Regions from separate parts of the Homo sapiens genome. Here region 1 is linked to region 2. Evidence: fine-mapped expression QTL. A gene starts in region 2. The other region holds a variant in brackets. All regions are shown on one strand. Distances are from middle to middle. Region 1 overlaps MACROH2A2 (macroH2A.2 histone). Region 2 holds the start of SAR1A (secretion associated Ras related GTPase 1A).

Region 1 (5,523 bases), 63 kb after region 2:
CAGGAGGGGCCTGTTAATAGGAATTCTTCCCAATCGCATGTATTCCAGCACAGAACAGCACTGCCGTGGTTCCACCGACGAAAGAATGCATCTCACAGCATCTCTGGGCCTGGAATGCTGAGACTCAATGCTGCTTGCCTAGGTTGATGTGTGATTACAGCAGGAACCTAGGTCTCATTATTTTCCTCTTGGGCTTCCCAGGACACAGCTATAAACCATAGCTATATTATAAAGGACAGCTCTCAAGGTGAGAGGGTGTTCAAAATTAAAGCAATAGATTGGCTAGGGGCATGAAGGGAAAGGATATGTTTTATGTGACAGCAGATATCCTCATTATGTATCTGAAACAATGCCCAGCTGGGATCTGTGACAATCCAGTCATTGCCCAGTCTCCTTTTCAGCAATCACTCGGGGACAGATTTTCACTTCTCTGGGTGTATTCATCAAAGCCTCGAACTCCTGGCTCTGCAGTCTCCCAGAGCAGCAACGGAATTCTCTGGGGATTCTGGAGCCAGAGGTCGGAGATGGGGGGCCTGAGATTCTGCATTCTGACATCGGTCACTGCTGCCTATGGACCACACTTTGAGTAGCAAGGCCTTCGAGCCTGGCGTTTTCTGATCATGTGTCCTGGACATGGACAGCTGGTGGGAATATGGACTTTGAACCTGGAAGGCTCTCAAAAAATAACACACCAGCTGGCCTCTGCCTCCCGCTCCTCCCCTGGGCTAGCCTTCCTCCTGGGGCTTTAACATCAAGGAGGCACTGGGGCTGGCCCCAGCCGGGGAAGACCTGCTGCCTAGGAGCCAGTGGGCTCGCTTCCCCATGGTTTCTGAAGGATGAAAACCGGGTTTCCTGCCCTGTCATCTGGTCAGCATACTTGGCTGTGCTGGCAGCCCTTGGCAACACCCAGATCAGATGTAAGTGGGGGAGCAGCTGATTTCCAGGGAAAAAGCCGGAGGAATCAACTCAGGGGAACTGCATCTTACCTGCCGCTGGGGAAAGGCGGGAACGCGACGGACTTTAGCTTCTTGTCCTCCGCCGCTGACAGGCAGTTTTTGATGGTCTCTTCAAGCTGTTCTTCACATTTGTCGGAGCCCCACTGAGGGATGTGACAGTGGATGACAAATTTGGCTGCGAGTCCACTGGATTGGCTGACGGCGGCTGGGACATAGGAGAGAAAATGCCGCGGGTTATTTCCTAAGGTTTCCTAGGTTATAGCCTAACCTCATCAGGTACCTGTTAGATCTGGAGATAAGGCAGTGATAGAGACGTTGGCTGGGCAGCATCCTGTGCTCCTGATGTGGACTATGTTTAACGAGAGCAAGAGCTGGGCTGTATTGCTTTGCACAGTTAGCACAAGCTTTGGGTAGAAGCGTTTAATGCTGCTCTGATGCGCCATTTTCATATGGTCTGCCAAGTAGTCCCTGGGTTGGGCTACCTCCTCACAATGGTTCCTAGTTAAAGGGACACATCAGATCCTCTCTGGTGGCTGTGGCAGGTAAAGTAATGGCATCCCAAAACATCCACGTCCTCCTCCCTGAAACCTGTGGGTGTTCCCGTACATGGCAAAAAGGACTTTGCAGATGTGATTAAGTGAAGGCTCTTGAGATGGGGAGATGATCCTGGACTGTCTGGGTGAGCCTGGGACCTGATAAGAGGGAGGCAAGAAGGTCAAAGGCAGGAGAAGGCCGTGGGATGAAGGAGACAGAGATTGGAACGATGCAGCCAGGAGCCAAGGAATGTTGCAGCTTAGAAGCTGGAAAAGGCAAGGAAGGGATCCTTCCCTGAGCCTCCAGAAGGAACCAGCCCTGCCAACACCTGGATCTTAGACTCTTAAAACTCATTGTGGACTTCTGGCCTCCAGAACTGTAAGAAGACAAATTTGTGTTGTCTGAAGCCACGAACTTTGTGGTAATTTGTTACAGTAGCCACAGGAAATGAATACAGTGGCTTTTATTTTTATTTTTTTATTTTTAGTTTTTTTTTGAGACAGAGTCTTTTTCTGTCGCCCAGGCTGGAGTGCAGTGGTGCGATCTCAGCTCGCTGCAACCTCCACCTCCTGGGTTCAAGTGATTCTAGTGCCTCAGCCTCTCGAGTAGCTGGGATTACAGGCATGTGCTAATTTTTAAAATTTTTTTATAGAGATGAGGTTTTGCTATGTTGCCCAGACTGGTCTTGAACTCCAGGGCTCAAGTGATCCTCTTGCCTCAGGCACCCAAAGTGCTGGGATTACAGGCGTGAGCCATCACACCTGGCCTACTGTGGCTTTTAAAAAATAGCTGTGCCTGGGCCCCACAGAGTCAGGGTACTGACCACCCAGAGGTCCTGACTCAGTAGGTCTGGTGCAGGGGCTTATGCTTATGTGATTTTAGGACCTTCTATGAGTTGAGAACCACTGAACTTGATTGTGTAGTTCCTTGACAGGGACTGCCATTTGATGATCTCCACATGCCCTGCAGAGAGTGGGGTTTCAAAAGCGGGCTGTGAAACTGAATTAGGCCAGCCTTGTCTCACAATTTCTGTCATACTCCTTTGTTTTACTGTTTACTCCCCTAAATGTGGTTCCCATTGGTGACAGAGTTGATAAAGCCCCGTGGCTGCTAAGCTCGAGGGAAGTCCCT[G/A]TGGGACTCCCCAGGGGAGCAGTTCCCTCGGATCTGCCTGAGGCAGCTGCAGCTTCAGCCATGAGCCATGCTTGCCCCCACGCTGCCCGTCTGCGCCCTGTGCCCCTCCAGGAACCCAGGAATCGGCGTAGCAAGGGTCCGTGGCCACTAGGGGCAGCACTTGTAACAGAAACGTGTGTCCGCCGTATTCCAGAGCTGTGTGTGGGGTTGAGGTGAAAGACTGACTGGAAATCTATGATGCCCACCTAGTTTATATAAGTATTTCCTGGCAATGTCCACAGTGTCAGGGAAGTGCTGACTGCACTTCCTCACATGGGTAGAAGCCAAATCCAAGGGACCCCTTCGTCCATCAGGGGAGGCTGTAGGCTCCCTGCCTTCCAGTGCCTAGACGGGGCTCAGTGTCATCACACGTGAACGCCTGAGTGCAGGACCCAGGCCACACAATACACCGAGGCCCTGGGTAGGGGCCCGCCATGCGTGCTGACTCTACGACCACGTATATTTGTGCACCAGAAGCAGAGTGTCCCTCTTTGGACTGAACAATGATGCCCCTAAAACTGGAGGCTGCTCTGCTGAGAACCAAGGACCCTGGAGATGGGCCTTGCCTGCATGGTGCCATCTTCCCGAGCACCTGGCTGCTATTGTATGCCGGACAGAGTTTGGCTTGTTACAGTCATGGCTGATTTATTTCATATATTTTAAAAGTATAATCATGTTACTAGCAGAATGGTATTCCTCTAATGTAAAGTCTTTTTTTTTTTTTTTTTTTTGAGACAGGATGCCCCTCTGTTGCCCAGGCTGGAGTGCAGTGGCTCGATCACAGCTCACTGCAACCTCTGCCTCTCGGGTTCAAGCGATTCGATTCTCCTGCCTCAGCTTCCCAAGTGGCTGGGATTACAGGCACCCGCCACCATGCCCGGCTAATTTTTTGTATTTTTAGTAGAGATGGGGTTTCACCATGTTGGCCAGGTTGGTCTTGAACTCCTGACCTCAAGTGATCCACCCACCTCGGCCTCCCAAAGTGCTAGGATTATACTGCACCCAGCCAAAAGTCATTTTTAAATAAAAGGAATATGTTCCTATTGGCAATGTCAAACATCCAATCAAGTAAAAAATGACTTTCAGGGTAGTGCACGATGACATTTCAGTCCAAAACAAAGTATGTTCATGGCAACTGGAAATGAATAACACAGCTTGTAGCCATAATGCTTTGTAATGTTCTCCAGAGTTGTCAAGGATGAGGGTCAAGTTATTGCAAGGGCTGTGACCCTGGTATTTGGTATAAGCACCTATCCACATAATGACTAGGGGCATTCTCTTACCTAATGTGATGTTGCCTGGTGAAGACCTGCATTCTGAGGGTGGCAGTGCTGCTGCTGGGAGCTTCTAGAACCTTCCCCCAGGTGAGCCATCACAGTTCTTGGGAGTCACCACAGCAAAAGGGGACTCTAGGTTGGCCCCTTGTCCTGCTGAGAGGCTGCTACTGCTGATGCCTGGTTTCCGTGACACTGTGGGTTTTCTTTTAACAGCACCTCAGTTTCCCACAATGGCCTCTCTTCTTCCTGCGTGTCTGGGCCCAGTGCTCTTCTCTCTGCTGCAGCCCCACCTCCTAAGCAGCCATCTGCAAGCCATTTTCCTCCTTAGCTTTCAACAGGGACCTGCACCTCATGACCTTTCTGGGGCCCCAGGGCTAACACGTGCCCAGTAAAATGGCCATTCACTCCTGAAACCCGATTCCCCTTTTTCCCTCTTTGTCACTGCAGACACCATCAGTTTCCTCTGCCTTGTCTCATTTCAGGCCCATGTGCTTCATTTTCACCCCCACTCCACCCCCACCCTCATCCAATACAGCTTTCTTGATGGTCTTCGGGCCCCAGCCCTCTGTCTGCCAAACCATCCTCCACACGGTTGCTGGAGCCAAGGTCCTTAAACTCCACATTTAAACTCAGAATCTGCAACTGCTCCTGATTGCCCCCTGGCCTTACTGCAGTCCTCCCAGGCTCCCTTCATGGTCGGCCCCTCTCCCCTTGGAGTCTATCCATTTCTTGCTCTTTCTGGATGCCCAGTCGTCCTCCAGCCAGTGGGCTCAGTCCCCTGCACACATGGGTCTGGCTGCACCTCTGTCTCCACACTTGGCTATCCTCCTTTGTCCCTGACTCCCTCGCCCATTCTCTCCGGGCCTCTGCCATGCAATTCAGCAGCCAGCTGTGCTAAGTGATGTACTGTGTTACCCTGGGGTCCCCGCCTGGTTGTAAAATTCAGGAGTGTTCAGGGCCTACAATCACATCCACATCCTGATGCCTGCGCCCGACAGCACACACCGTAGATGCTTAACGTGAACTGGTTCTGCCCCAGCTGACATCTTCACTGAAGCACTTTTGTATTCCTTGCTGCTGCCTGGCTCCTGCCACAGTCACTGGCAGGCAGGTGCTCCAATATTCAACAAATGAATGAAAGTCCTGACTTTTCATCAGTTTGCTCAGCCCTGGAAACCCTGGACTTACCTTAGCTCCAGCTTCTGCCTCCCTGAACATGCAGCATCGCTGCCTCTCACTGACTCTGCACCTGAAATATTTTCTTGATCCACCCTCCCCGACCCCCTGCCACAGGGTGGGCCTGCACTGCAGTTGGTCTGTTTTAACCATGTTAAGATGCACTTTTTTTTTGTTTAAATATTTTAATATTGTTGAAATCAGGAAGCATCTTAGAACTGCTGTCAGCCTGGAGCTGAGTTCTTCCAGAAAGAAATTACATTTCCTTCTATGTCACCTGGGGACACTACCAAACTAAGGCTATGTCTCACTCTCTTCTCTGCCTCAGGTTTTGAGCTGCACTGGATCTGGCTGCAAATCTTCAGGAGCACTGGCTTGCGGTTCAAATTCTTTTTCTGTTTTTTAGACAC
Region 2 (5,000 bases):
TGAGTTTGCTTATGGTGTCATGATTGTTGTTATGCCATATAAGTTTTTAATTTTTATGTAGTTAAATTTGTCAATCTTTTCTTTTATGGCATCTACATTTTCTTTTCTTTCTTTTTTTTTTTTTTTTTTGAGATGGAGTCTCAGTCTGTTGCCCGGGGTTGGAGTGCAGTGGTGTGATCTCGGCTCACTGCAACCTCTGCCGCAGGGGTTCAAGCGATTCGCCTGCCTCAGCCTCCCAAGTAGCTGGGATTACAGGCGCCTGCCACTACGCCTGGCTAATTTTTTGTATTTGTAGTAGAGATGGGGTTTTACCATGTTGGCCAGGCTGGTCTCGAACTCCTGACCTTGTGATTCGCCAGTCTCAGCCTCCCAAAGCGCTGGGATTACAGGCATGAGTCACCACGCCCGGTCTAGATTTTCAATCATACCCAGAAAGGTCTTCTCATTGCAAAATTATAAGGAATCCATGCTTTCTTCTGTTTTTCTAGTACCTTTATAGTGTCATTTCAAAATACACACATCTTTTCATCACTTGAAACTTGTTTAGAGTAATAAACTTTTGGAGATTCAACCTGTAGGTTTTTTTGACTACCCAATTGTCTCAACCCCTTTTATTATTTATTAATTTATTTAACAACACATAACAGAATCATTTATTGAAAACAGTACTCTGGAAAAACTATGTGCACAACAATGCCTGTTTCACCCATTTTACAGTGGGTACATGGTGGTCTGGGGCATTCGTCAACTTGCTCAAGCCTTTAGGTAAGTAGAGTTTGCGGCTTTTCTGAGAATCTGCCTGCATGTTCCCTCCTTCCCCAGCCTCCCAAGCCATCCTGTGGTTCAGACACCTCCACCTCGTGCAGCCAGGCTCTCAACAAAGCCAGTAATCCAATGTGTTGGCTTGCACTGGGCTTGCATCTGTGTCTCCAGGATGCACAAGGGGTTCCAAGCCCCATGGACACATTGTCCCTGGTTTAGCTAAAGCTGGTGAGAAGCCTCAGAAGTGGCCTGACACCTTTCTGTGACAGGACAGGGTTCAAATTCAACATCTAAGACCCCAGGATGAGCGGAGGGTAGAGGGTGGTGAGCTTGCCCACTCAGCTCCCTGAGTATTGCTGGAGTCCCAGGTGCTACTTTAGTTTTATTTCTGCATGTACTTTAGTCATTTCTGTACTTTGCTCTGTTCCATTGTGTTTTTTGTGTGTGTGTGTTTGTGCATGTGCACGCACACCAGTTTTAATAACTTAGGCTCTATAATATGTTTTAATATCCAACAGGGTTAGTTCCCACCTCCTTGTTCTTCATTTTGAAAGCCTGTTTCTGGACTAGTTTTGTTTGGTTTTCTATACGAATTTTAGGAACAAATAGGGTAATTAAAAAAAAAGAACGAAACCACACACGACCTATTAATCCTATTAGTACTTTTATTGGGATTATGTTAAATTTAAATTTTACTAAAGGAGAATTGAGATCTTCATGAACCCACAGACGTCATTCATCTTTCCATTAGACTGTTTTATTTGTAAAATGAGAGTAATAATAGTACCAATCTCGTGGGACTGTCCTGAGAATTAAATGAGAAAATGCATGCGAAATATACTGGGGTGAACACGTTGCTTTGCCACTTAGCTGTGTGAACTTGGGCATGGTAGGTTATTCTGAACATTGCTCTCTCATTTGTCAATAAGGATAATACTAGCATCTGGAGTCACAGGACTCCAATGACGGTGAAATTAGACAAAGCGTGCAAAGTACCCAGTGCTCTGCCTGGAACATAAGTGCACAATAAATATTAGCTGTTTTTCTGTTTTTCTAAAACATAGGCCACCCCAGGGCAAGGAAGTGCGACTCAAAGCAAAAGCAGCTGGGCGCGGTGGCTCACGCCTCTCATCCCAGCATTTTGGAAGGCCGAGGCCAGCGGATCACTTGAGGTCAGAAGTTCGAGACCAGCCTGGCCAACACGGTGAAACCTGTCTCTGTAAAAATACAAAAAAATTAGCCAGGTGTGGTGACATGCGCCTGTAGTTCCAGCTACTCGGGAGGCCGAGGTATGAGAATCGCTTGAATCCGGGAGGTGGAGGTTGCAGTGAGCCGAGATCGCGCCACTGCACTCCAGCCTGGGCGACAAAGTGAGACTCCGCCTCAAAAAAAAAAAAAAAAAAAAAAAAAGCAAGGAAGAAAAAAAGCAAAAGCTTGGAGGGATCCACCTCAAGTGGAGGGCCCCAAGGTCAACTCATCTTTCCCAGGACCTATGTCACCGTCGGTACCCACTTCTGACTTTCCTGGTGCGTCTGGAATGGGAAGCCGCGATCCCGAGTGTACCAGGCCGCTCAGGGACTCCAGGACCCAGCCCCGGACCCAGGGTTCCGGCGCTGCCACGTCTCGCGCGGTCAGCTAGCCAGACGGGAGCAGGCGGGGCCGAGGCGGGGCCAGACCCCGAGCGCGCTTTGTCACGCCTTATGCCCGCCCCTCCGCGGCCCGAGTCGCTGGTGGGACGGCACCGGGGCAGAGAGGCGTAACGCTGTGAGGGGGCGGGGCCCATTACGCGCCCGGAAGTCCCGGGGAGGGGTGTGACGTACATCCGGCGAGTAGCTGGCGGTCCCGGGTGCTGCTGGTTAGTGTGCTCTGAGGGAGGGTCCGAGCCAGCCGCTGTTTTGCCGGAGGAGCCCCTCAGGCCGTGAGTCTGAGGGTCGCGTCGGGGAGGGGAGTTGGGGCTCGAGGGGCTGGGACGGAAGGCGGGGAGGTCGGAGCGGAGGCTGGCCCTGGCGGGGTTGGGTGGGGGGGAAGTGACACGCAGGCGGTTCTGTGGGGCCGCGGGGCTGATTCTGGGCGGGGACGGGACAACTTGGCCAGATCTGCTCCGTCCCCTGCTGTCCTCTTTGCCTGGGGTCCACTTGCATTCCGCTCGGGGGTCTCGCAGCTGCTGGGCCGGATAACAGTTTCTTGTCTGTACCGTGCGCTCCGGTTTACGAAATGGCTCCATGTCCTCTGTCTCGGAAGAGCCTCACAGCCCTCGGTGAGGCGGGTGGGAGCCCTTTATGATTATCCTTGTTTTGTAGACTCGGAGACTGAGGCTGGCCAAGGCTCCGCAGTTAGCGAGTGTGAGCGCTCGAACCTGGTCTACAGGCCCCTAGTCCAGGGCTTACCCCCAAGTCAGCGCTTGGTTGTCTTCCGATGGCCCGGGTCGAACCCTGTATTTTCTCCTTCTCCCTTCCCCTTTTCCCCTGTCTGGTCTCTGCATGGAAAAATTTCCTTATGTGCATTTGACATGGATTAGCGTTTTCTTCACGATTCTAGCCAGTGGGTCAGGAGCATCTTTGTCTTGTTGATTCCATCGGCTTCGGTTGCGACAGGGGGCTTAGGGAGATTCGCCATGGGGCTGACCTTTGACATTTACCCCGCAGCTAAGCAGAGTTAGCTAAAAGCCAGCCGCCTACTACCCCAAATCTGCCTGGAATGGCGTCTTAAAGTTGCCCTGATTATGTATAACAAGTAATGCGTAAATTTTTAAATTGGCTAATGGTCAGATTGGTGCCCTCCTTTTCTATTAACATTTGTTTGAATCATTTAGCCCTGGAATTCGCAAGTTTTCATTTTAGGTACATTAATAGTGTTTTGTTGATAGTTTAGAGACCTACCTTAAATTTTAGATTACTCTTAACTTCTCGTAAGGTGGTACAATGGACCAAGAATAGAAAATAAATAGAATGCTAGTTATTAAAATACCATTCAAAAGATGTGATGAGTTGTAAGGAAGAGAACTTCGGAAGATCATCCTCTGTGTAGTTGGTGGGTTAAAGAAGTTTTAGTTTTTTTTTTTTTCCCCAGCAATTTTGTGGTTTGGGTTTGAATTTTATGTACTGTTAACAGGAAGAGCTTAGGCTTTGGTGTTAGAGATGAGGGTTTAAGCCCTGGCACTATTACTTTTTCAACTGAGCCGTCTTAAAGGACTCAGCAAAACTAGGAGTATCCTCATCTTTATCTTGTTAAATGAGGCCAGTGATCCTTGCCTGGTAGGGTTGGTGTGGGGATGAAATGAGATGTACAAGTACTGTGCAGATTGTAAAACTACTGATGAGTTGGTACAAATCCTAAGATCTTAAGGAGAGAGGAGCCACCAAGGCCATTTTCAGCTGCTGAGGAGGCTGAGGTGGGAGGATCTCTTGAGCCTGGGAGGTTGAGGCTGCAGTGAGCCATGATGGCAACACTGCACTTCAGCCTTGGAGACAGAGTCTTGGTCTGTCTTAAGAAAAGGGGGGCGGGGGCATTTTCTTAACTTTGGGTAGCAGTGCAACCCGACTCTTTGGATCTAGTAAGGGTTTTTATTATTTTTAGCTCACCTGAAGAGTTTCTTCAGTCAGCCTCCACTCTCATCACTCCTTTACAACCCAACACTTCTATATACATTTGTACTACACTGGTTTTCAGTCAATACTTTACAGACTTGTAAAAAATGTTTACATCACTTTAGAAATTTTTCTTTCTTTCTTTTTTTTGAGATGGAGTTTTTGCTCTTGTTGTCCAGACTGGAGTGCAATGTCATGACCTCGGCTCACTACAACCTCTGCCTCCCGGGTTCAAGTGATTCTCCTGCCTCAACCTCCCGAGTAGCTGGGATAACAGGCGCCCACCATGCCTAGCTAATTTTTGTATTTTAAGTAGAGATGGGGTTTCACCATGTTGGCCAGGCTGATCTCGAACTCCTGACCTCAGGTCATCCACTTGCCTCGGCCTCCCAAAGTGCTGGGATTACAGGCATGAGCCAAGTATTTTCAACTAGATGAATTCTGCAAAGGTGAAAAGGAGAAAATGCCACACTTTAAATAGTTTTTCATGGCAATTGAACTACTTTAATTTTCCATTTTATTTTCCTTTGACACTCCTGCTTTTAAGCCATCTCCTCCCTTGGAGCATACAAATCAGCAGCAGCCGGGATTTAGCTACTTGGATGCTTTAATTCTTCCCTCCAAAATGATCTGAGTGGGAATGACCTTAAT

Evidence for each region. PIP is the estimated chance that this variant, and not a neighbour inherited with it, causes the effect.
Region 1: its variant is fine-mapped to the expression of SAR1A in whole blood (TOPMed, PIP 0.98).

What each region holds. Positions count from the first base shown.
Region 1 is chr10:70,104,671-70,110,193 of GRCh38, reverse strand. MACROH2A2 (macroH2A.2 histone) reads right to left here. Exons shown (of 9, transcript NM_018649.3): 8 at 987-1,161. Among named protein-coding and RNA genes, the nearest start is that of AIFM2, 25 kb to the left of the region's middle. RefSeq lists an enhancer at 2,629-2,708. The variant G/A (reference allele first, on the strand shown) is at 2,622.
Region 2 is chr10:70,168,093-70,173,092 of GRCh38, reverse strand. SAR1A (secretion associated Ras related GTPase 1A) reads left to right here and starts at 2,579. Exons shown (of 7, transcript NM_020150.5): 1 at 2,579-2,680. RefSeq lists enhancers at 2,085-2,164, 2,298-2,954, 2,955-3,613 and a silencer at 2,295-2,654.